Linked DNA regions of Homo sapiens. The protein of the gene in region 1 purifies or fractionates together with the protein of each later gene. This does not show direct contact. Each region holds a gene or a part of one and is shown in the gene's direction. Other genes may lie near its edges.

The links.
Region 2: the proteins of CLEC4C (region 1) and SEMA6B purify together in Homo sapiens (affinity purification with mass spectrometry; one large-scale study listed by BioGRID and IntAct). This does not show direct contact.
Region 3: the proteins of CLEC4C (region 1) and INTS4 purify together in Homo sapiens (affinity purification with mass spectrometry; one large-scale study listed by BioGRID and IntAct). This does not show direct contact.
Region 4: the proteins of CLEC4C (region 1) and INTS7 purify together in Homo sapiens (affinity purification with mass spectrometry; one large-scale study listed by BioGRID and IntAct). This does not show direct contact.

Annotation. Positions count from the first base shown.
Region 1 is NC_000012.12:7,736,104-7,742,099, reverse strand, and holds part of CLEC4C (C-type lectin domain family 4 member C), read left to right. Parts: intron 1-568; coding exon 569-679; intron 680-4,525; coding exon 4,526-4,671; intron 4,672-5,996. UniProt on the Homo sapiens protein: Lectin-type cell surface receptor which may play a role in antigen capturing by dendritic cells. Specifically recognizes non-sialylated galactose-terminated biantennary glycans containing the trisaccharide epitope Gal(beta1-3/4)GlcNAc(beta1-2)Man.
Region 2 is NC_000019.10:4,551,787-4,557,782, reverse strand, and holds part of SEMA6B (semaphorin-6B precursor), read left to right. Parts: intron 1-559; coding exon 560-620; intron 621-769; coding exon 770-832; intron 833-1,693; coding exon 1,694-1,795; intron 1,796-2,218; coding exon 2,219-2,309; intron 2,310-2,687; coding exon 2,688-2,807; intron 2,808-3,306; coding exon 3,307-3,395; intron 3,396-5,143; coding exon 5,144-5,361; intron 5,362-5,996. UniProt on the Homo sapiens protein: Functions as a cell surface repellent for mossy fibers of developing neurons in the hippocampus where it plays a role in axon guidance.
Region 3 is NC_000011.10:77,878,140-77,884,135, reverse strand, and holds the end of INTS4 (integrator complex subunit 4), read left to right. Parts: intron 1-183; coding exon 184-304; intron 305-5,008; coding exon 5,009-5,187; 3' UTR 5,188-5,379; downstream 5,380-5,996. UniProt on the Homo sapiens protein: Component of the integrator complex, a multiprotein complex that terminates RNA polymerase II (Pol II) transcription in the promoter-proximal region of genes.
Region 4 is NC_000001.11:211,975,755-211,981,750, reverse strand, and holds part of INTS7 (integrator complex subunit 7), read left to right. Parts: intron 1-560; coding exon 561-658; intron 659-3,239; coding exon 3,240-3,479; intron 3,480-4,206; coding exon of another isoform or gene 4,207-4,305; exon of another isoform or gene 4,306-4,919; intron 4,920-5,031; coding exon 5,032-5,169; intron 5,170-5,996. UniProt on the Homo sapiens protein: Component of the integrator complex, a multiprotein complex that terminates RNA polymerase II (Pol II) transcription in the promoter-proximal region of genes.

The DNA of each region.
Region 1 (5,996 bases):
CAAGTGATTTTCCTGCCTCAGCCTCTTGAGTAACTGGAATTACAGGCGCCTGCCACCACCCTTGGCTAATTGTTTTTTTGAGACACAGTCTTGCTCTGTCGTCCAGGCTGGAGTGCAATGGCGCGGTCTCGGCTCACTGCAACCTCTGCTTCCTGGGTTCTAGCAATTCTCTTGCCTCAGCCTCCCAAGTAGCTCGGATTATAGGTGCCCGCCACCACACCCAGCTAATTTTTGTATTTTTAGTAGAGACGGGGTTTCACCATGTTGGTCAAACTCCTGACCTCAAGTGATCCAACCAGCCTCGGCCTCCCAAAGCGCTGGGATTACAGGTGTGAGCCACTGTGCCTGGCCACCTGGATAATTTTTATATTTTTGGTGGAGACGGGGTTTCACCATGTTAGCCAGGCTGGTCTCTAACTCCCGACCTCAAATGGTCCTCCCACCTCGGCCTCCTAAAGTGCTGAGATTACAGGCGTGAGTCACTGTGCCTGTCCACAGCATAAGATTGTATAGTACAACATAGATCCACTTAAAAGAATGAGAACTAACTCCGATTTCTCTTTCCCAGTGCCTCACAATTTTATGTATAGCAAAACTGTCAAGAGGCTGTCCAAGTTACGAGAGTATCAACAGTATCATCCAAGCCTGACCTGCGTCATGGAAGGAAAGGACATAGAAGGTACAACTCTGCAATGGGCAACAAGACTTCCCTTGCTATTAATCAAATTCCTAGTCTGATGGTTTATATCTTCAGCACTAAAATTATCAACTGCAGCCTGGTTTTTCCTACTGCATTCTTTAACTATCTACTTGGTATCTTAAATAGACACCTCAGGCTGGGCCCAATGGCTCACACCTGTAATCCCAACACTTTGGGAGGCCGAGGTGGGTGGATTACCTGAGGGTCTGGAGTTTGAGACCAGCCTGACCAACATGCGGAGAAACCGCATCTCTACTAAAAATGCAAAAAAAGTCCGGGCGCGGTGGCTCAAGCCTGTAATCCCAGCGCTTTGGGAGGCCGAGGCGGGCGGATCACGAGGTCAGGAGATCGAGACCACGGTGAAACCCTGTCCCTACTAAAAATACAAAAAATTAGCTGGGTGCAGTGGCAGGCGCCTGTAGTCCCAGCTACTCGGGAGGCTGAGGCAGGAGAATGGTGTAAACCCAGAAGGTGGAGCTTGCAGTGAGCCGAGATCGCGCCACTGCACTCCAGCCTGGGTGACAGAGCGAGACTCCGTCTCAAAAAAAAAAATAGACACCTCAAAATTAAAGTATCAAACAGGGGTCCTCAGAACTGTCTCACTTCCTCCTGCTCCCATCAATATTAAAGCCTAAAACTCAAGAATCATTCTTAGCAGTTTTTTTCTCTTTTTTCTTTCTTTTCTTTTTTTTCTTTTTTGAGACGGAGTCTCACTCTGTCGCCCAGGCTGGAGTGCAGTGGCGCGATCTCGGCTCACTGCAACCTCTGCCTCCCAGGTTCAAGCAGTTCTCCTGCCTCGGCCTCCCAAGTAACTGGGACTACAGGCACACGCTGCCAGGCCCGGCTAATTTTTTTGTATTTTAGTAGAGACGGGGTTTCACCTTGTTGTCCAGGCTGGTCGTGAACTCCTGAGCTCAGGCAATCCTCCCGCATCGGCCTCCCAAAGTGCTGGGATTACAGGCGTGAGCCACCGTGCCTGGCCAGCAGTTTTTCTTTGCTTATCATCTTCACCCCTGCATCCAATTAATCACTAAGTTCAACAGTAAATATATCCCTCTCCCTATACAGTTCTGGATTAACTGAAAAATAAATATACACAGGATTCAGATAAGAATAAAATTATGCCTGGCATAGTGGCTCACATCTGTAATCCCAGTGCTTTGGGAGGCTGAGGAGGGGTAATCACCTAAGCACGGGAGCTTGAAACCAGCCTGGGAAACAAGATGGGACCTCAACTCTACAAAATACTTAAAAATAAATCACCCAAGCGCAGCACGGTGGCTCATGCCTGTAATCCCAGCACTTTGGGAGGCCGACGCGGGTGGATCACCTGGGGTCAGGAGTTCGACACCAGCCTAACCAACATGGAGAAACCCTGTCTCTATTAAAAATACAAAATTACCCGGGCGTGGTGTCGCATGCCTGTAATCCCAGCAACTCGGGAGGCTGAGGCAGGAGAATCACTTGAACCTGGGAGGTGGAGGTTGTGGTGAGCTGAGATTGTCCCAGCCTGGACAATAAGAGTGAAACTCCATCTCAAAAAAAAAAAAAAATTACCGAGCTATGGTGGCATGTGCCTATAGTCCTAGCTACTTTGGAGGCTGAGGTGGGAGGATCAGTTGAGCTCCGGAGGTTGAGGCTACAGTAAGCAGCAATTACACTGCTGCACTCCAGCCCGGGTGACAAAGTGAGACCCTGTCTAAAAAAAAGATAATAAATAAAATAAAATTATCAGCTTTATTGATGGTAAAATCAAACCATGAAATATGGCCTAGAGTGAGGCCAAACTGTTGCTCCCTAGTCCAGGCCTACTCACCTCCTCAGGGATAATTGGTCGGCTGTGTCCAGGATCAGGGACTGCCTACAGCGTCGTATGCAGAGCCGGAGGGAGACAAGTTCCACCCCAGAAATGCCTCTATGGCCTTAATCCTTTGCAGGAAGGAAATATGGACCCAAAGGGCATCAAACAATTATTTCAAGAATGAAACAGGCCAGGCGCGGTGGCTCACCCCTGTAATCCCAGCACTTTGGGAGGCCGAGGCGGGCGGATCACGAGGTCAAGAGATTGAGACTATCCTGGCCAACATGGTGAAACCCCGTCTCTATTAAAAATATAAAAAGTAGCTGGGCGTGGTGGCGGGCACCTGTAGTCCCAGCTACTCCGGAGGCTGAGGCAGGAGAATTGCTTGAACCCGGGAGGCGAAGGTTGCAGTGAGCCGAGATCACACCACTGCACTCCAGCCTGGGCGACAGAGCGAGATGCCATCTCAAAAAAAAAGAATGAAATAATTCATTCTTTACTTATAGGGAAAAACTGTGAGAGGTAAAAAGATGACAAGAGTTTCTTTTTCAAAACTACTGGTGGGAATCGAACAATGAGAACACTTGGACACAGGGTGGGGAACATCACACACTGGGGCCTGTTGTGGGGTGGGGAGGGGGGAGGGATAGCATTAGGAGATATACCTAACATAAATGACGAGTTAATGGGTGCAGCACACCAAAGTGGCACATGTATACATATGTAACCTGCACGTTGTGCACATGTACCCTAGAACTTAAAGTATAATTAAAAACAAAACAAAACTATCATAGGAGGCCAGGCTCAGTGGCTCATGCCTGTAATTCCAGCACTTCAGGGCAGCTGAGGCCAGTGGATCACTTGATCCCAGGAGTTCCAGATCAGCCTGGGCAACGAAGCAAGACTCTGTCTCTACAAATAATACAAAAAAAATTAGCTGGGTGTGGTGGCGTGCCCCTGTGGTTCCAGCTACTTGGGAGGCTGAGGTGGGAGGATCACTTGAATCCAGGTCAAGGCTGCAGTGAGCCATGGTTATGCCACTGCACTCCAGCTTAGATGACAAAGCATGATCCTGTCTCTAAAAAAATTTTTAAATATTTATTTTGGTATAATGTATGTCAAAATATAAAGAAAAACATTTTGATATGGTCTACATTGTCACTGTTTGTTAGAGGGAATGTATATAATCTCGTTTGTGCTGACAGTGGAAGAAACTGGTGCTTCGAAGGAGGAGAGATGGATATTTTTCAGCACGTACTGCTCTTAAGTGTTTTGCATGTATTATGTCACCTCAACCTCTCAACATTCTGAGTGAGAAATATTCCCATTTACAAACGAAAAGAAAAATATTTAAGGCTTAGAGTGGTTATATAATTTTCCCAAAATTACAGCACAGAAAATGAGGTTGCAACCCAGATATGTCTTACTCTGGACTCATTCTTTATAATGGGATGCTAAACTCTAAATGATATTTATATCTATAATTATTAGTGACAAATATAACATTGCGAAGCTTATTTTTGCTAAAGATGTGGACATGGTTCATATATGACCACCAATGAATGATGAGAACCTGAAGTTAAAGTATTTGTCTTTCAGATCATTTTTGTGGGTTTAAAGCAGGGCCTGGAAAACTAAGGCATGGGCCAAACTCAACAAGCTGCCTAGTTTTGTAAATGGCATTTTATTGCCATACTCATGTTCTTTTTTTTTTCTTTGGTAACATATTGCCAGTGGTTGCTTTCGTACTGCAGTAGCAGAGTTAAGCAGTTGCAACAGAAACCGTATGGCCCAAAAAGCCTGAGATATTTACTATCTGGCCTTTTGCAGGAAGTTTGCTGGTCCCTGTATAGAGTGAAATGATCTAGGGATTAGTAAATACACCAGTAAATGAGTTCAGCTTTGGAAAATCCGTGGAGATCCATAGGTGAAAACTAATTAAACCTTAGCAAGCTAAGCTTATAACTTTATGTGAGGAGAATTCTCTGTTAATATTTTTTCTTCTTCTATACTCATTTGGGAAGATTGGAGCTGCTGCCCAACCCCTTGGACTTCATTTCAGTCTAGTTGCTACTTTATTTCTACTGGGATGCAATCTTGGACTAAGAGTCAAAAGAACTGTTCTGTGATGGGGGCTGATCTGGTGGTGATCAACACCAGGGAAGAACAGGTATGTTCTAACAGGCAAGGTGGTCAGCTAATCTGTTTCCTTTCTTAACTGATAAAGAGTCTTTTTATTGCCCTGAAAGTTCAAAGACAGGAAAAAAAAAAAAACTTCTGGGTAAAAAAAAACCCAAAAAACAAAAAACACAGGAAAATCTCCTTAATCTGGAACACTCAAAAATGACTTTTATTTTTATTTTTTTTGGGGGGACTGTCTCCTTTTGTCACCCAAGCTGGAGTGTAATGGCACGATCTCAGCTCCCTGCAGCCTCCGCCTCCCGGGGTCAAGTGATTCTCCTGCCTCAGCCTCCCAAGTAGCTGGGAGGATAGGCATGTACCGCCACGCCTGGCTAATTTTTGTATTTTTAGAAGAGACGAGGTTTCACCATGTTAGTCAGGCTGATCTTGAACTACTGACCTCAAATGATCCACCTGCCTCGGCCTCTCAAAGTGTTGGGATTATAGGCGTGAGCCACCATGTGTGGCCAACAATAACTTTATTTTTTATTTTTATTTATTTATTTATTTATTTTGAGACGGAGTCTTGCTCTGTTGCCCAGGCTGGAGTGCAGTGGCACAATCTCAGCTCACTGCAAGCTCAGCCTCCCGGGTTCACACCATTCTCCTGCCTCCCAAGTAGCTGGGACTACAGGCACCTGCCACCACGCCCGGCTAATTTTTTTGTATTTTTAGTAGAGATGGGGTTTCACTGTGTTAGCCAGGATGGTCTGGATCTCCTGACCTCGTGATCTGCCCGTCTCGGCCTCCCAAAGTGCTGGGATTACAGGTGTGAGCCACCACGTCTGGCTAACAATAACTTTAATAAAACAAATTCCGGAGCAAACTTCAGGCAAACATTGATGTTGAAATTTGATCCTGAAGAATTTTAATTTTAAAAATATAAGAAAAAAAATTCAGGCAAATAAAATAGTGAATTTGAAAAATGGAAAAATGATATTAATATTTGCCATCTAAGAAATGTCAACCAATTAAACATTAGTCCTTCATACTGTATCCTCTGCATTTCTTACCTTCTTTTCAACATTTTCCATCTATTTTTCTCTTTGTACTTGATTTTAAACAGTTTCTTCTGTCCTTCTATTCCAGTTCACTAATCTTCTTTTTGTTTTTGAGACAGAGTCTCACTCTGTTGCCCAGGCTGGAGTGCAATGGCGCCCAGGCTGGAGTGCAATGGCACGGTCTTGGCTCACTGCAACCTCCGCCTCCCAGGTTCAAGCGATTCTCCTGCCTCAGCTTCCCGAGTAACTGGGACTCCAGGTGCGTGCCACCACACCCAGCTAATTTTTGTATTTTTAGTAGAGACGGGGGTTT
Region 2 (5,996 bases), on another chromosome or scaffold:
CGAGAATGGAATCCAGGGGACCAGGGTGGAGGGGACTGGGCTGTCCAGGCTGGCTATGATTGAGGCTGGACCAGGTGGAAGCTGTCGTGGGGAGAAGCAAGTGTGAGATTACGGGGCTTCTAGGGATGGGCTTCCCAGGAAGGAGAGAGACCGGACAGATCAAATGCTTTGGAGAGGATGAGGAGGATGCGGAAGTGACCACTGGGCTTAACTACACGAGGTCACCAATGACGTTGAGCAGGGCGGCTTCCTCGGCAAGGGTGTGAGGGGAGAGAGCCTGGTGGGCGCCTGGGAGGCGCCGAGTGGGGCACCTGACCTAAGGCCATGGGACATGGTGTTGGGGGCAGTCCGTGGGGCGTGCCGGGCAGGAGGTGGAGTGCAGGATATGAAGGCCTGCTGGGGCCCTTGGGGGGGTGTGGTCGGCGCTAGAGTTGCTCGTGTCAGAGGCATTGGCATGGCCCTGCATGCCCCCGTGTGCACACCACATTGGCAGTGGGAAGGATGGAACGGGAGAGGGTGGCGGAGCCCCCAGTTCTCACTAACTATGCCCCTCCCCCAGGGACAACCTCTACCGCGTAGAGCTGGAGCCCCCCACGTCCACGGAGCTGCGGTACCAGAGGGTGAGGAAGGGGTGCAGGTGGGAGTGGAGGGGTAGGGCCAGGGGGACGCGGCACTGCGCCGGGGAGCTGGGTGGATTCGGCCCAGCACGGCGGGGTCACTCAGGGCTGCTGGGACCCGTTACCCCCTCACCAGCTCTCTCTGTCTGCAGAAGCTGACCTGGAGATCTAACCCCAGCGACATAAACGTGTGTCGGATGAAGGGCAAACAGGAGGTGAGTTGGCCCTGGCTCGGTCCCGGCCCCTGCGAATCAGCCCTGGCATTACCCATGCCCCGCCCCAATCAGACCAGGCCACGCCCACCCCGCCAGCCCTGGCCACGCCCCAACCCACCCCCAATCAGCCCTGGCCCCGCCCAACTGCCAGCCCTGGCCACACCCCCAAACAGCCATGGCCACGTCCACGTCCCCACCCAATTGGTCCTAGCCCGGCCTCCAGCCTAGCCACAATTATCCATAACCACGCCCCAAATAGTTCTGGCTATGCCCACACTTCTGCCCCTGTCAGTCCTACCACCACCCCCAGCCTCGTTCCAACAAGCCCAGGCCATGTTCACACGCCACCCAATAGCTCACTCCCCACCCAATCGATCAGGTCCCCATCCCGACCCCTCCCCTATCAGTCCTGCCGCCCCCCACGCCCCCGGCCCGCCCCAATAAGCCCAGGCCACGCCCACCCCACCAGCTCTGGCCACGCTCCCAACTTGGCCCCAATCAGCTATAACCGTGCCCACCACGCCCCAGTTAGTTCTGGTCACGACCATGCCCCACCCCAATCGGCCGTGACCACACCCAGGGCGGATCCTTCTCCTCCATCCCAGGTTAGGACTCTGCTATTGCCATGGTTATGCCCACAGTCTGACAATGCCCACCATCCTGGCCTTGCCTGCGTTGCTGATACAAAGTGTTTCCCTGTCTGGGTCGCACCGTGTCCCCAGCCAGTCCTAGGTTCAGCCCCTGCCTTGGCCATGCCCACAACAGACCGGCCCTCCACCCACACAACTCAGGTTCTGGCCACGCCCATCACCATGACCACGCCCACATCGCGCTCCCCGCTTCCTCCTGTCCCCACCTCAGGGCGAGTGTCGAAACTTCGTAAAGGTGCTGCTCCTTCGGGACGAGTCCACGCTCTTTGTGTGCGGTTCCAACGCCTTCAACCCGGTGTGCGCCAACTACAGCGTGAGTCTTCAGACTCCCTGCGCCCCAGGTCCAACCTCCAGGCCTCTGCTCGCCCGACCTCCGCTGGCCATGGCTTTTCCCCAGGCCGTGTCACCTCCTCCAGGAAGCCTTCCTGGATATACTCTCCCTGCCTCCTCCCCCTGAGCTCAAGAGGAGTCAGCGCTGTCCAAACGAGGCCTGTACAGGGGGCCGGGGAAGCCGTAGCTACTTAGGTAATGAGCCAGTTACAGGTCTAACTAGGCATTGACTCTTAAACCCATTTACAGATCAGTAAACTGAGGCCCTGAGAGGTTAAGTGAGTGGCCAAGGTCACACAGTAATCCGTGGTGGATCAGGATTCCCCCTGGAGTGGGGGGCTGAGGGAGCCAGGGGCTGCTAGGTGGGGTCAGGAGATCTGTCACTCAGGCCCCATGGTCCCTGCAGATAGACACCCTGCAGCCCGTCGGAGACAACATCAGCGGTATGGCCCGCTGCCCGTACGACCCCAAGCACGCCAATGTTGCCCTCTTCTCTGGTAAGTACCCCCCCAACCTCCATCTGATCAGCCCCAGCCACAGGCAAGACCTGGCATTTTCTACTCCAGCGTCTGGGTTGTTTAGAAGGCAGCTGGACGACCACTTGTCCCAGCTGTGACATGGGCAGACTCTCAGCCCAGGTTTGGGGCTCAGCTGGGATTGAGGCTCAGCGGGATTTGGGGCTTAGCCGGGGTCAGGGGCTCAGTTAAGGTCAGGGCTTGGATGGAGGTGGGGCTTGGATGGGATCAGGGCTCAGCCTGGAGACAGGGGCTCCCCTAGGCTCAGGACTCAGTCTCAGAAAATCGAGTTTCGACCCACCCAGCCCCTGGCCTCTGCGGTCTCATCTCTTGCCTGCCTTCCCCACCCACCCCATCCAGACGGGATGCTCTTCACAGCTACTGTTACCGACTTCCTAGCCATTGATGCTGTCATCTACCGCAGCCTCGGGGACAGGCCCACCCTGCGCACCGTGAAACATGACTCCAAGTGGTTCAAAGGTGAGACCAGGAAGGGCAGTGGGCCCAGACCTGGCAGGGCCCAGAACCTGACATTCATCAAATCTCCCCACCAGAATAAGAGTCCCAGAGGAGCTTGGTGGAGAGATTTCCACCACATCTTTGGAATCTGTTGGCCTTTTTGAAGACTAGAAAGCTAGAGGAACAAGTTTAGTTGGATCTAAAGTAGAACCCGCTGGAAGTGGGTGGCTTAGAAGCCCAAAATGGAACCACAGAAAAGATATAGCAGGACTCAGCTCTTCAACACATGAGGGAGGAAGATAACAAAAAATAGTTGATGTTGCCATTTGCAGCAAGAGACACAGCGATTTTAGGCTTCTGACCTCCCTTCCCCTGCAAAATACCAAACTTTGAGTCTGTTTCATATTGTCTGGGTAACCAGCCTATGTCCCCCCTTCACCATAAAAGCCAGTGAGTTCTTAGCCCCAGAAACCCCCTTTGTCATGTCAGGGGCTGAGTTCTGACCCCTCCTGTCCTGCAGAGCCTTACTTTGTCCATGCGGTGGAGTGGGGCAGCCATGTCTACTTCTTCTTCCGGGAGATTGCGATGGAGTTTAACTACCTGGAGAAGGTGAGGCCGGTGCAGTGGGGCATGAAGTTGAGAGGCTCTGATCATGCGAAGTGAGGGGGCAGAGGTGGATCCATGAATCCCTGCATGGGGTGAGAGGGTCCTGCCCTCCATTTCTGGTCCCCAGGGCCTCCTTTCCAGCCATGATCAGGCCCTGAGGCTGAAGACATCTACGGAGCAGCCGTGGAGCACTCAGCCCTGACGAGGGACTTGAGTTGGAAGTCAGATACACCTGGTGCTGTTGCTGTTCACCTGTCCACCCACCCACCCAGCCACAATCACTTATCCATCCTTCATCCCCTGTCCATCCGTCTACCTGCTCACCCTCCCACTTACCCATCTGTCTGTTCTTCAGCCCACCCACACTTTCATGAGCCCATTAATCCATCTACTCATCTGCCCACCCACTCACTCATCCACCCACTACCATCCATCCGTGCACTCATCCATCTGTCCATGCATCCATCCACCCATCGATTCATCTAGCCACCCTTCCATCCTATCCATCTATCAGTCCATCCACCTATCCATCCATCTATCCATCATCTGTCCATCCATCTGCCAATCCATTCACCCATCCATTCATCCATCCATCCATCCCATCCACCCATCCATCCATTTATCTACCCATCCACCAACACACCCACCCACCCACCCACCCATCCATCCATCCATCCATCCACACATCCATCCATCCATCCAGCTGCCAATCCATCCACCCATCCATTCATCCATCTACCTATCCACCCACCCATCCATCCATCCTTCATCTATCCATCCATCTGCCAATCCATCCACCCTTCCATCTCATCTATCCATCCATCTCATTCACCCACTCATCATCTATGCACCCACCCATCTATCCATCCATTTATCTGCCCATCCACCCACACACCCATCCATCCATCCATCCATCCATCCATCCATCCATCCATCCATCCACTCACCCATCCAACCATCCACCCATCCAACTCACCTATCCATCCATCCATCCATCCATCCATCCATCCACTCACCCATCCAACCATCTACCCACCCAACTCACCCATCCATCCATCCATCCATCCATCCACCCACTTATCCATCCATTCATTCATCCACTTATTCACCTATCCATGCATCCATCCATCCACTCACCTAGCTTTCTCTCTATCCATCTGTTCATCCATCCACCCACACATCCATCTACTTATCTACCAATTGCTTGATTACCTTGTTCTCCTTCACCATCTCTTCCATTATCTATCATCCTTCTTCAGATGTATTTATTTATCCATCCACCTACTCATCCCTCCATTGTAATCGTCCGTCCATCTACTCATCCACTCATCCGTCCATCCAGGCAACCAGGCAGTGCTGAAGTGCACAGACTGCCACTAACTACTATTGTGACCTTGGACCAGTCACTTCCTTTTATCTGTGCCTCTTATCAGTGTCCCCACATGTACAATGGGGGGATATCAGTAGGCCCCCCTCGGGAAGAGTGTAAGAGATGTGAGAATAAAATGTGGGTCTTCGTGGAAACAGTGATGATTATGGTTGTCACTGTTGCTATTATCATCATTGACATTCCCACCGGGAATTTCTGCCAGGGAAGCCGGTGCCCAGAGAGGAACGGTGACTGGCCGGGGTCCCACCAGAGCCAGGGTCAGACTCCTCCATCACAGTTTGGGTGGTGAGTGGCACAGCCTGTGAACAGGCCTTCCTGGGACACAGAGCTCAGGCCCCCGTCCGTCCACTGTCACGCCCAGGTGGTGGTGTCCCGCGTGGCCCGAGTGTGCAAGAACGACGTGGGAGGCTCCCCCCGCGTGCTGGAGAAGCAGTGGACGTCCTTCCTGAAGGCGCGGCTCAACTGCTCTGTACCCGGAGACTCCCATTTCTACTTCAACGTGCTGCAGGCTGTCACGGGCGTGGTCAGCCTCGGGGGCCGGCCCGTGGTCCTGGCCGTTTTTTCCACGCCCAGCAACAGGTCAGCGCCCACCAATGGGAGCAAACTGGGAGCATTTGGTGGGCATGGGTAGAGAGGGCCTGTATTCACTCCTCAGGTATGCCCTGGGTGCTAGGTTGGGCACCACTGGATTAGACCTCTGAGAGGCCTCGGCCCCAGGCTGGGGTGGGACAAGCTGACACTGACCCTCTAAGTCCCTTTGGTCAGAACTGGGCCAAAGATATCCTCATCCTCTGCCTTTGGGGAGAGGAGCAGGGAGGGCTTCCTGGAGGAGGGGACATTGGAGCTGGACTTTGGGTGTGAGATGGAGGAAGAGGGAAGGGTGTTCAAAGTTGGAGAAACAGCATGTGCAAAGGTCCTGAGGCTTCAGTGAGTTCAGTATACTTAAGTAATCGTGAGAGAGTCTGTGTGGGAAGGGAACTAGGGGAGAATGCACAACAGGAAAGCAGGGAACTGGTAGGATGGATCAGGCAAGGCTTTGTGGGCTGCAGGCAGAAACTTGGACTTTTTCCCTGAGAGCACTGGGGAGCCATGGAAGAGTGAAGAGCAAGAGGGATGAGATCAGGTTTGCATTTTTTGTTTGTTTGTTTGTTTGTTTGGTTTGGTTTTTTTTTTGAGACAGTTTCACTCTTGTTGCCCAGGCTGGAGTGCAGTGG
Region 3 (5,996 bases), on another chromosome or scaffold:
CTGCTTCATGCTGGATTAGGGGAATAGAGATGTCTACAGTGTTGACCTACCCCCAAGGCTCAATCTTAGTAAAGTTGGTGTCATGTTTCTTCTTGTGTTTTGAGGTTCACAACAGATGTCATCATCCATTTTGTTAAATGCTCCTCTCGCTTCTGCCTTTTTCTCATTTCTGTCACCCTTTAGGTCTTATATCCAGATGGCCAGGCTCAGATGATTCACCCCAAGCCTGCAGACTTCCGGAATCCTGGCCCAGGGCGGCACCGGCTCATCACTCAGGTTTATCTCTCCCACACCGCTTGGACAGGTAAGGAGTCAGGACCAGGGTGGGAAGGGAAATATGCTGCTGGAGATCACACCTACCCTTAAGCGTTTGGTTTTTAAAGTTTGAAAAAAATACATGGATGAATCAGGCCTTGTAAGAATTGAACTTAATGAGTTTATAAGCACTCATTAAGTGGGTAAAAAACTGGGTATATTTGGGCTAATTTGCTACAGTGCTTTGATTGCATGAGAGATAAGATTCTGTTGGAAGATATACAGGCGATTATGATAGAATGGAGTCTCATGGAAAGGGCCCTGGTCTGGACACCAGGAGATTATTCTTATCCTAACTGCCACCGACTTGCTTGGTCACCTTAGACAAGTCTCTCCCTTTCTGAGTCTTTTTCCTTATCTTCCAAATGACAATAATAATTCTCAACCTACAAATTAGTTGTGAGGATTTTTAAAAATATTTTTTTTCATTTGCCAACTTATGTCTGAATTGTGAGGATAAAATGGGAGAATACAAGTACAAAGGAGATTACATTTCAAGCCTGTAAGCCTGCTTTAAAAAACTTAAGAAGACCTCAGTCTGCAGAACCTAGAATAGGGGGCAGAATTGGCCTCAGTGGTGTTTCCCAAATAATTGGAGATGGTTCAGGAGCACTGTTACTGGAGGTGTTTAATGCCACCAAATTTGGTTTATTTTAGAGATAGGGAATGCCTTTTGGAATTTTCTTTCACTCTGTGTTTTTAAACACATAATTATAAGGCTATTATTATTATTATTATTATTATTTTGAGACGGAGTCTTGCTCTTGCCCAGGCTGGAGTGCAGTGGTGCAATCTCGGCTCACTGCAACCTCTGTCTGCCTCCTGGGTTCAGGTGCTTCTCCTGTCTCAGCCTCCCGAGTAGCTGGGATTACAGGTGCACGTCACTACACCTGGCTAATTTTTTTGTATTTTAGTAGAGACAGGGTTTCGTCATGTTGGCCAAGCTAGTCTCGAACTCCTGACCTCAGGTGATCCACCCGCCTTGGCCTCCCAAAGTAGTGGGATTACAGGCATGAGCCACTGCGCTGGGCCTTTATTAATGGTTTCCCTCTGTCAGGGTGTTAGATGGGTAATGATGACTTTATGAAGCTGTTGGATGTTAGGGCAGCCCCTTTGGGGTTCTAGTGGTGGTAGGCCTGGTGTAGTTGAGGGAGCATCCAGCAGTTCTGCTACCCAGGACGTGCTTCCCTGAGTATTCCTCATTCCATAATCTGGCTGCCTGGAATGTTTTTGCACTATTTGCCAAACCACTGGCCCCACAGGAAAATAGATTCCTTATTCTAATATCTTCTGCTGAAGGGATCCCGGACATGGGGAAGGAAATGCTGTGGGACAGTATTGTTTTGGGAGGGACAAGGCTCAGGAAAGCAAATTACAGTATGCTGTAGCTCCAAAGATCGTGGAAGGTCTTGAGAGGGTCTGACTTGTCCCTGGTCACACAGCAAGTCATTGCCAAGGCCAGAGTTAGAACTCAGCTGATCTGCCCCCAAGCTCAAGGTTCTTTTTCCTAGGCCCCATTTCCTCTTAAGGTATCCTAGTTCATTGCAGACTTCCTTGTTTTGTATTGCCAGGCGATCCTGAGCCTGAATAATTTTAACTTATACAAGATCACAGCCAGGCCTGGTGGCTTGTACCTGTAATCTTCGGGAGGCTGAGGTGGGAGGATCGATTGAGCCCAAGAGTCTGAGACCAGCATGGGCAATATAGGGCAACCCTATCTCTACAATAGATATATAAAAAAGTTAACTGGGCATGGTGGCATGTGCCTGTAGTCCCAGCTACTCAGGAGGCTGAGGCAGGAAGATTGCTTGAGTCTGGGGGGTCAAGGCTGCAGGGAGCCCTGATCATGCCACTACACTCCAGCCTGGGTAACAGAGCAAGACCCTGACTCAAAAGAAAAAAAAAAAAACCATCAGAAACAAGAAAACAAGATCACCTCCTCTGAATGGTCGCTACCCAGTCACTATTACAAATCCCTGTTTTAATTGTTTATATATAGTGCGTACTGGTTTCAGATGTGTTTTCACATTTAATTACTTACTGACTTTCCCATTAGGATGTAGGCTTCTATAGAGCAGGGAACTTGCTTGTCTTTGCCTCTGTATCTCCATTGTTTTAGTAGCCTGTGTCTCTAGTGCCTGACATGTAGTAGGCACTCAACAAATAATGAAAATTGAATACAAGGTTTTAAATGTGCAATAAAAATTCATTTAATCTTTAGACCAACTCTGCAGTGGAAATTAGTATTCTCTTTTCATTTTACAGATACATAAATGGAGGCCCACATACCTGATCAGTGACAGTGCTAAAGCTGCAGTCACCCTTCCCAGCCCTCACTGTGCTATGTCCCTTCCGGTTTGGGGCACTGAAGTGAAATATGTCTCATTGTAAATGAGCTTGCAGTTTCTTTCTCCTAATCTAGGTGATGGGGCCTGGAGTTTCTAGGGAGCTCCTTCAATCCCTCAGTAGCTCCCCACCAGGGAGGGGCCTCTCCTCTGGGAGGCAGGATGCTGCCACGTAGGAAGCTCAGTCATAGACCATGTTTCAAATTCTGCTTCCTTTGCTGTGTGATCCTGAGAAAGTTATTTTACTTCCCTGTCTCATTAAGATGAGAATAAGAATATAAACCTGCTAGGAGAAATATTCTTCCAGGCATGACGCAGAAGTTGCTTGAGTTATCCTAGATGATCTTGTCTCCTTCTCCCAAGTTCCCCTCCTTCTTGTTTTCTCTCTTCTCCGCTTTACTCCTATGGCATTGCCTTGAATTGCCATTCTTATCAAATGTTGGTAAGGGAATGCAAAATGACCCTGTAGGGCTGAGTCCTACATCAACTCCCTCTGACCTTAGCAGGATTTATTTGTTTTTTTGTTTTTTTGTTTGTTTGTTTGTTTGTTTTGAGACAGGGTTTCCTTCTGTTGCCCAGGCTGGAGTGCAGTGGTGTGATCCTCTCGGGCTCAAGTGGTTCCTCCCACCTCAGTCCCCCTAGTAACTGAGACTATATGCCTGGCTAATTATTTTTATTTTTTGTAGAGACAGGTCTCACTATGTTGCCCAGGCTAGTCTCAAACACCTGGGATCAAGTGATTCTCCTGCCTTGCCCTCCCAAAGTGCTGGGATTATAGGCTTGAGCCTTATCCAGCTCTTACCAGGATTTGGCTTCTTGAAAGTGCTATGCCAACTGGGGCTGTGGTTGTGGTCTGCCACTTGGGATGGAATGGGAGAGTGTGGCAGGAAAGCAGATATAGGTACCTATTTTGATTCCACCCTAAGTGGGAGATTCATCTGGAGCCTGGTATCAGAGAACAGTGTTAGTTTCATGACAGTTACACTCATGGCTGCTGCATGACCCTCATGTTGTCATGTGAGTGTGTGCTTATCACATGGCTGGTACTTGATGATGAGGCTGCACTTAGATCTCATGCTGAAATCTGAGGTGCACTGGATTGCTCTGGCCTTGGGCTGACTGCAAACCTTTCCCTTCCTGGAGGACAGCAATCCAGTCTCTACTCTGACCCATAGAGAGAAGCTTGGATGTAACCAGGAAGAGGTCTGGGGAGGCACTGAGAAGTCCTGGAGTCTCTGCCCTTGTTAATTTAGATCCATCTAGCCTTCATTCCTACCCTCTGAACTTCTTAGCCTTGGGATCATCTTCAACTTACACTTTTTGCTCTGGTTGCACCAAATTAAGGAGACATCCCAAGCTCACTCCATTCCTGGCCTTTGCACTTGCCCTTACATTTTTCTGAAATTCTCTCCCTCTTCTTTATAGAAGCTTGTGGTTAATAGAATGAGTAACTGCTTCAGTTTATGAACTGGGCTCAAATTCTTACCCAGGTGTGCATCTGGGGAGTCTCTGAGAACCTATCTGATTCTTGGGATTTTTGCCAAGATTGTGACAGTCTTTCTTTCATAATGTAGCAGGATAAGAACTCTTGGGGTTAACTGTTTGGCATAGAATGGATATTCTATTCCAAAGCCTTCCTGCGCTCCTCCTCAGTACTTCTTGCAGGCTTGGTTAGAGCGTGTGTTGTACTCCATTGCAACTATCTGTTTCCTCAACCAAACAGCAGGCAACTTGAGGGGAGTTCTTAATTATTCTTGCTAGGACCTGCCACATAGAGACACTAGATGATTATATCGTAAGATAATGTAATGAAAGAATGAGATGTTTTCAGACATTTTAGGTCCCTGAGACATGTTCCTGTTCATTGGCCAGAAACTTTTTGGCGAACCACTTCCTATTCAAAGGCTTCCTCTCCACTAATAAAGTAGTCTGTGGTACATGCAGCCCTGAGGCTTGAGATGGAACTGCGCAGGAAGAGCCCAACTGGGTATCAGAATAAGCCACATGCACCTTCTGAAACTGCCCAAATCCACACCTGCATAAGAATTTGAGCCCAGTTCATAAAGCAGATCATGAAGCAATTATCTTCCTGGAAGGGTTTTTAGCTTGCTCTCCAGTTGCCTCAGCAGCTTTGGCTCTGTGCCACAGTGAGCCCAAGGGGAAGGTGATGGAACAGCATCACATCTGCAGGCTCAGTGTTTTGTTTGGTGAGGGTAAGGGGAGGGAATGTAGACGGATGAAGAAATTTCTCCCTACTGCTTCCATTTTGATATTTCTTTAACTTCACATTTCATCCTCATTCCTAGCAGTTGCCTAGTTATAGAGGATTTCTTTTATCTTTTTTTCAGAGGCATGCCAGGTGGAAGTGAGGCTGCTGCTGGCCTACAACTCCAGTGCTCGCATTCCAAAATGCCCCTGGATGGAGGGTGGTGAGATGTCACCACAGGTGGAAACCAGCATCGAGGGCACCATTCCCTTCAGCAAGCCTGTAAAAGTTTATATAATGCCCAAACCTGCACGGCGCTAAGGCAAAAACAGTCTTCCCAACCGTGGCCTAGAGGGCCCTTCTTAGGTGTCAGAATGAGCCAAGCCTGAAGCACTTCACCTGGAATTGATGTGTAGGCTTAAGGAGTATGTGACCCTTACAGTCTCATCTGGTATCAAACACAGGATAAATTGTTTCTTCATTAAAAAATAAAAAACCTTCAAGTCTACTTACCCTTCTCCTGTCCACAATAAAGTTGAGAAAACACCAAGCTGTTCTAGTTCCTGGTCTGTAAAGAAATGCGTGTGGCTATAGCTTCAGCTTTTATACTACGTGCTTACATGCTATTCCTCAGGTGTGAAACACAAAGATCCAGTTACCTCCTGATAACTGGTTATTTGAGCTATAGTCTTATTTCTTAAAGTGACGGTGTGTTTGTCAGGGCAACTCCAAGGCCGCTTTAACAGCTGTACTTTTTTTTTTTACCATTGACAGTTGCTGAAGGACCTTAAACATGTGTTAACCTTGCTAAGAAGCCTCTTCCCTAATGCAGGCAGTAGCTGGGCCAAGGACTGAATAGCTGGAGAATGAATCATTTTCATCTTTGAGGAAATTTTTTTTTTTTTTTTGAGATGGAGTCTTGCTGTGTCGCTCAGGCTGGAGTGCAGTGGCGTGATCTTGGCTTACTGCAACCTCTGCCTCCTGGGTTCAAGCCATTCTCCTGCCTCAGCCTCCTGAGTAGGTGGGACTACAGGCGCCTGTCACCACGCCTTGCTAATTTTTTGTATTTTTAGTAGAGACGGGGTTTCACCATGTTAGCCAGGATGGTCTTGATCTCCTGACCTCGTGAT
Region 4 (5,996 bases), on another chromosome or scaffold:
TTTAACCCTATGGTAGTGAAAAGATGTTCTAGTGCTGCTATTTCATGAGACATCTAAGAGGTTCATTCTTTATGGTCAGACTTAAAACAGTAATAAGGTTATGTGGAGACCTTATTATTTCCTAAAAGTGGTTCAGCTTTCATTAGAAGCTGAAAACTGTTATATCTTAGGTAAAAATGGACCTGCATAATTTATTTCTGATTAGGGAGATTAACACATACTGCATAGTTTGCTGTTCTTAGTATTTTCCTTAGCTAAGCTGGTGACACTATTTCAGTTTTGCTTTATTTATAGCTTTGTGGCTTTAGCTCTTGATTTAATGTGTATATTTTTATAAATACTTCAATAAAGTGGTAGAAATAAAGTCTGAAGATAGACTTTACATTCTAGAAGTAATGCCACATGTACTTTTTCAAGGAAGGTTAGGTTCATCCATTTAATAATTCCCTATATCTTAAACTCCTTAATGTTTTTTCTAAGAGAGTGTGTATGCATGTATATGTGTGTGTGTTTGTACACACATCACTTGACCATCATAAAGTTTACTGTTTTTCTTCTAGATCTTTTGGCACTGGAACAAGATGCTGTCTTTGGCCTGGAATCCCTACTGGTACTTTGTAGTCAAGATGATAGTCCAGGTGCTCAGGCCACTTTAAAGGTGAAAACTTTTATTTATTAAGTTGTAATAGATATATATGATGGTCTTAGGCAATAGAAAGCAAAGTTAAGCAGACATAGCTCCTGTACTCTTAGAAGTTTTAATCTAAGTGATTAAATCTAACTGATAAAACTACACTGATTTAATCTAACTGATAAAACCACAAAAAAACTGATGACATGACTGCAGCCGACTCATAAATGTTCATTAATTTAACATAAGCGTTCATTAATTTCCCAGTGGTATAAGCCCTAGTTTATAAGCCAAGGGAAGAATATTTTAAGGAATTTTCACCTTCACTTAGTTACAGAAATCATCTTAGAGATATGCAAGATTTTTAAAATGTGAAATGAGGCCAGGACAGTGGCTCTCATGCCTATAATCCCAGCATTTTGGGGCGGTCAAGGTGGAAGGATTGCATGAGCCTAGGAGTTCAAGACCAGCCTGGGCAGCATACTGAGACCCCATCTCTAGAAAAATTTTTTAAAATTTAGCTGGACATATTGGGGCACACCTATAGTCCTAGCTACTCATGAGGCTGAGGTGAGAGGATTGCTTGAGGCCGAGAGGTTGAGGCTGCAGGGAGCCATTATTGCACCACTGTTCTCTACCCTATGTGAAAGAATGAGACCCTGTCTCAAAAAAAATAAATAAATAAAATGTGAAATGAAACTACTCTTTTTGGAGTGAAACGTGAAATATAATTTGTGATGGTGCAAAATTAATGAGGAGAAGCATAGTTAATAGAAGTAAGAAACTGTTAGATAAACATTGGCGTTAGCTTGTCTAAGGTGTGGTTTCAAGGAAGTCATGGCTCATTTTAGCAGGTTAAGGAAAGTTGTGATATGGTCATAGTGATGAACAATAAAGATAGTAACATCATTAAGTGACAGCTAATAAGAAGTAGAGAAGGGAAGTAGACAACATGTGTTTGGCAACACATTCTGAGGGGGATCCTCAGAATCCCCTTGGAACCACAGTACATTTAAGACTTTTTTTAAAAGCAAATCTTTTTTCCAACAATTGTGGGTGTCAGTAAAATGCTGGATTCAGCACAGTGGGACATACATAGATGGCCAAGAAAGGTTCCTGTAATAGAGGAGCTTCCCATCTAGAATAGGCTACTGATGTTTATATAGGGGACTATAATACCAAGCGGAACACAATACATTCTCTGATATTTCACAAAAAAAGTGCAGTTCTAATGAGAGGTCAGAGTCGGGAGTGATTAACTTTAACCAAGGGTATTAGGGAAGACTTTAAATAAATGTCATATGAGTTGAGTTGTGAAAGATGGAATCGAATTACAGTAATGAGGAAAGATTGTTTGAGCCCAATGACTGCTGTTATAAAAGACTTGAAAGTAAGAATGTACCTGTTGTGGTGGAAGAATGGTGACTAGCCCACTGTGGCTGGGTGAAATAATTTGAGATTTGGAAAAGTAGTTCAGTCATAGAGGATATCAAATAACATGGTATTATGGCTTTGATTCTATAGGTAATGAGGAGATAATATAATTTTAAAGTAATGGTAACCTTTGTCGTAATTATTATTGTTATTTGAATGTCTATTATGTGCCAATCTTTGTTGAAGACTTATATATACATTTGTTTCAGTCCTTCAATAACCCTATAATGAAATGTGTTCTCCTCTTATACACATCAGAAACTTAAGGCCGAGAGAGAGAAGTACCTTGTTCAAAGCCACCTAGCTAATAAGGGGCAAGCTGAGCTTCAGCCCTTGCATTTATCAGACTCTAAAGTTATGTGTGTGCCTGACACCCCACTGATGGCTACATGGCTGCATTGTGAAGGATGGATTGAAGGGCCCATCTTTTCAAGAAATTGGAATTAGGAAGAGATTTATGATGTGGTAGAGAGAATGGAAAAGTGCCAACAGTGGATATTGGAGGCTTGACAAAAGAATCTGTTAGCTATGTAAAAGTGGGAATATTTCTAGGTTTCTAGTTTTTTGGCTGGATATTAGTGATGCCTTTAAGAAGGCCTTGGTAAGAGAAATTCTGTAGCCAAATTGGTTTTTAGATTTCAGTTGAGAAATAAGAGAAAATTGGGAACCTCTTTCCCACTTCAGTGTACTTAGAGTCATCTAAGCCGTCTTTTTAAAACTGTGAAACCTCAGTAGCCTCAACACACACACACACGTATGTTAATTCAGGAATCTATATTTTTATTTTCATTCTGGGAGATGCTGGCATAGTTTACAAGCCACACTTCAGAAGCAGTTCCTGAAAAGTAATGATAATACAGTGATGGTGACATTTGGCCTATATTTGCCTCTTCAGCATTATTCCTTATGATTTCCATCTTTCTTAAAAGTATTTTAATAGTCTTAGATTGAAATGAGTGGTTGACGTGCAGTCCTAATTTGTTATTTTAAACGTAGTGCACTTCACAAACCCTAATGTGAGATTCAGTACCTCATATTTCTTATGAAGTAAAATGTTATGCCTACAAGAAACCTCACCCTTGAGTTTCCCCAGTAACCTGTACAAAGCTCTTTTCCTTAAAGCTTCATCTGTATCTTCAAAATGTAACTAGTTCATTTTCTTTTTGGCGTGCAGATTGCTCTAAACTGTATGGTGAAGTTGGCCAAGGGCAGGCCCCATCTTAGCCAGTCAGTAGTTGAGACCTTGTTGACTCAATTGCACAGTGCTCAAGACGCTGCCCGGATTTTGATGTGCCATTGCCTGGCAGCCATTGCCATGCAACTGCCGGTGCTGGGTGATGGGATGCTTGGTGACCTCATGGAGCTGTACAAGGTGATTGGACGATCAGCCACAGACAAGCAACAAGAACTTCTGGTAAAAAGCCCATTTTGAATCTCCTTTGAATGACTAGGATCTGGTCTAGTGGGAATTACTTTTAAGTCAACATTACTATTTGACTTTACTTAAAAAACAGAACAAACAATAGGTTAAATTCATTACCTAAGACCAAAGAGTGTGCTGATGTCAAAATAGAATTGGCTTTATGAGCTTTTTACTTTTTTCACTTTTGATTTAGAAAGCCGTGTTTTGTTCACCTCTAAAACTGCTTTCTTCCGAAACCCTGTCAAATCAGCCTAGTATAGCCAAAGCCTTCAATCTCATGTTTTTTTTTATTGCAAAGGACAGAATGAAAATGAAATTTTTATCTTTCTTATACAGAGTAAATAATGAACTAAACCCTGTTTTGTACTTTAGAAAATAGAAGTTAAAAATCTAATGATAATAATGACCATAAATTAGCCCAAATTTATGTTTTCCATTCCAGGACCTCTTTAGCTGTTTAGGATCCAGTTTAGGCTTCTGTAGACCCTTGAGGTTGGGAAAGGTACATGCTTAGAAAGAAACAGAAGCTGTGGAAGCTATAAAATGTTTAGTTGAAAAGTTCTGCAGGACTGAGAGTAGGCTACATTCTAAATAATTGTAAATTAAATGAAAGTTGTAAGGTTGCCATTCCATATTGTTCTGTTCATCTTAATTTAGAATGTGGGAAAAAATATAATGAAATAATTTATTCAAGCCTGTTTTATGTTTAATCCTCCAGAGGGAATTGTGTAAAAGATTGACCCCATCCCATCATTTGCTGCCAGAAAAGGTTACCTTGATGACCAAATGTATGGATCTTTATATGAATCAGCTTTGAAATATTAAGAGGCAGTTAGCTAAGTTTATTTTTTATTGAAGTGGCATTTTGAACTAACGGTCCTGATATCTTTTTTGTGAGTACTACCTTAAGATTGTCTTAAATTATGAAACATAATATTCAAAAAATCTGAGGAATAATACAGTGAAAACTCTTGCATTCATTATCTAGCTTAAGAAAAAGGTATTAACAGTTTAGTTGAAGCCCCCTGTTTACCTTGCTGATAGCATCTCCTCCCTTCTCTCAGGTAACCACTATCCTGAATTTGGTATTTATCATTCTCATGCCTGTTATTCTTTTACTACCAAAGTGTATATCCCTAAGTAATATGCAGTATTTTGCATATTTTTAATTTTATGTAAACTTTATCATACTACTTGTAATCTTTTGCATTTTGCATATTTTTGCGTATTTTGCTTGTCATCTATGTTGGTAAGTCTGTCGCTAGTTTATCCATTTTATTTACGTATCTCATTGTTTGATTATGTTATATAATTTATTCATATTATGGGTATTGCTTCTACTTCTTTGCTGTTATAAAGAGTGCCCTGAGTGAATGGAATAAATTAATGACTTCAAAATAAAAAATTAAATAAATGTCATTGGAAAACAAATTTTGTTCTTTTGCAGTGGGCTCTAATTAGTTTTCCTCCCTTTGGGGTAGGTTATCAATGACACTGAATAAAATTAAATGATTTTCTTGGTTTTCTTCTTGCCCAATGTTAGGTGAGTTTGGCTACTGTGATTTTTGTTGCAAGTCAGAAGGCATTGTCTGTGGAAAGTAAGGCAGTAATTAAGCAGCAGCTTGAAAGTGTCTCCAATGGATGGACTGTATACCGTATTGCCAGACAGGCTTCCAGAATGGTATGTGTTACCCTTCTGAGTGAACTGGGTTGCTGGAAATGTCAGATCATGTATCTTCAATTGTATGATTATTAGTTGTAGTCAAAACTAAAAATAAAGATGGAAGTACCTTTTAGTCATGGGTTCTGAAGATGAGGAAGGAAAGGACCTGATTTTTAACTTTTATCATAAAAGAATGGTATCTATGTTGTTGGCATTAGTAATGAGGAAGTTAAAATCTGGACCCTTTCTGGCTGTAGGTTGTTAGTGCCACTTTCATTTTGCTCTGTATTGTTATAACCAAGGCCACCTACCACCCGCTGTTTCTATCTTCCTTTCTCAGTATACCACATCTTTGTTCCTCTCCCCAGTCTTGTCATTCTTAAGTAGAAATGGGAAAGCTTTAGTATGCTGTACTCTTCTCAGCCATATGGAAAGCCTAACAAGTTTTATTAATTTTGTTTGAGAGGAAATAGAAACCTTGGTTAGTACAGAAATCCTGGCCGGGTGGGGTGGCTCACGCATGTAATCCCAGTACTTTGTGAGAGGCCAAGGCGGACAAATCTCTTGAGGCCAGGAGTTTGAGACCAGCCTGGCTGACATAGTAAAAGCCTGTCTCTACTAAAAATAAATTAAAAAAAAAAACCTTGGGGATAAGTCCAGAGACCAAAGTTTGAGGAAGCATTACTCTAGGTGATTGAAGTGCATGTTCTTAATTTTATGTTGCTTCTCAAATGGGGGAGAAGCACACACTCTTGGCAGGACAATTCTTCATTATACTGTTCTGTCCCAAGCACTGCAGGACATTGAGTATCCCTGGCCCCAGGCATTAAATGGTATTCACATTT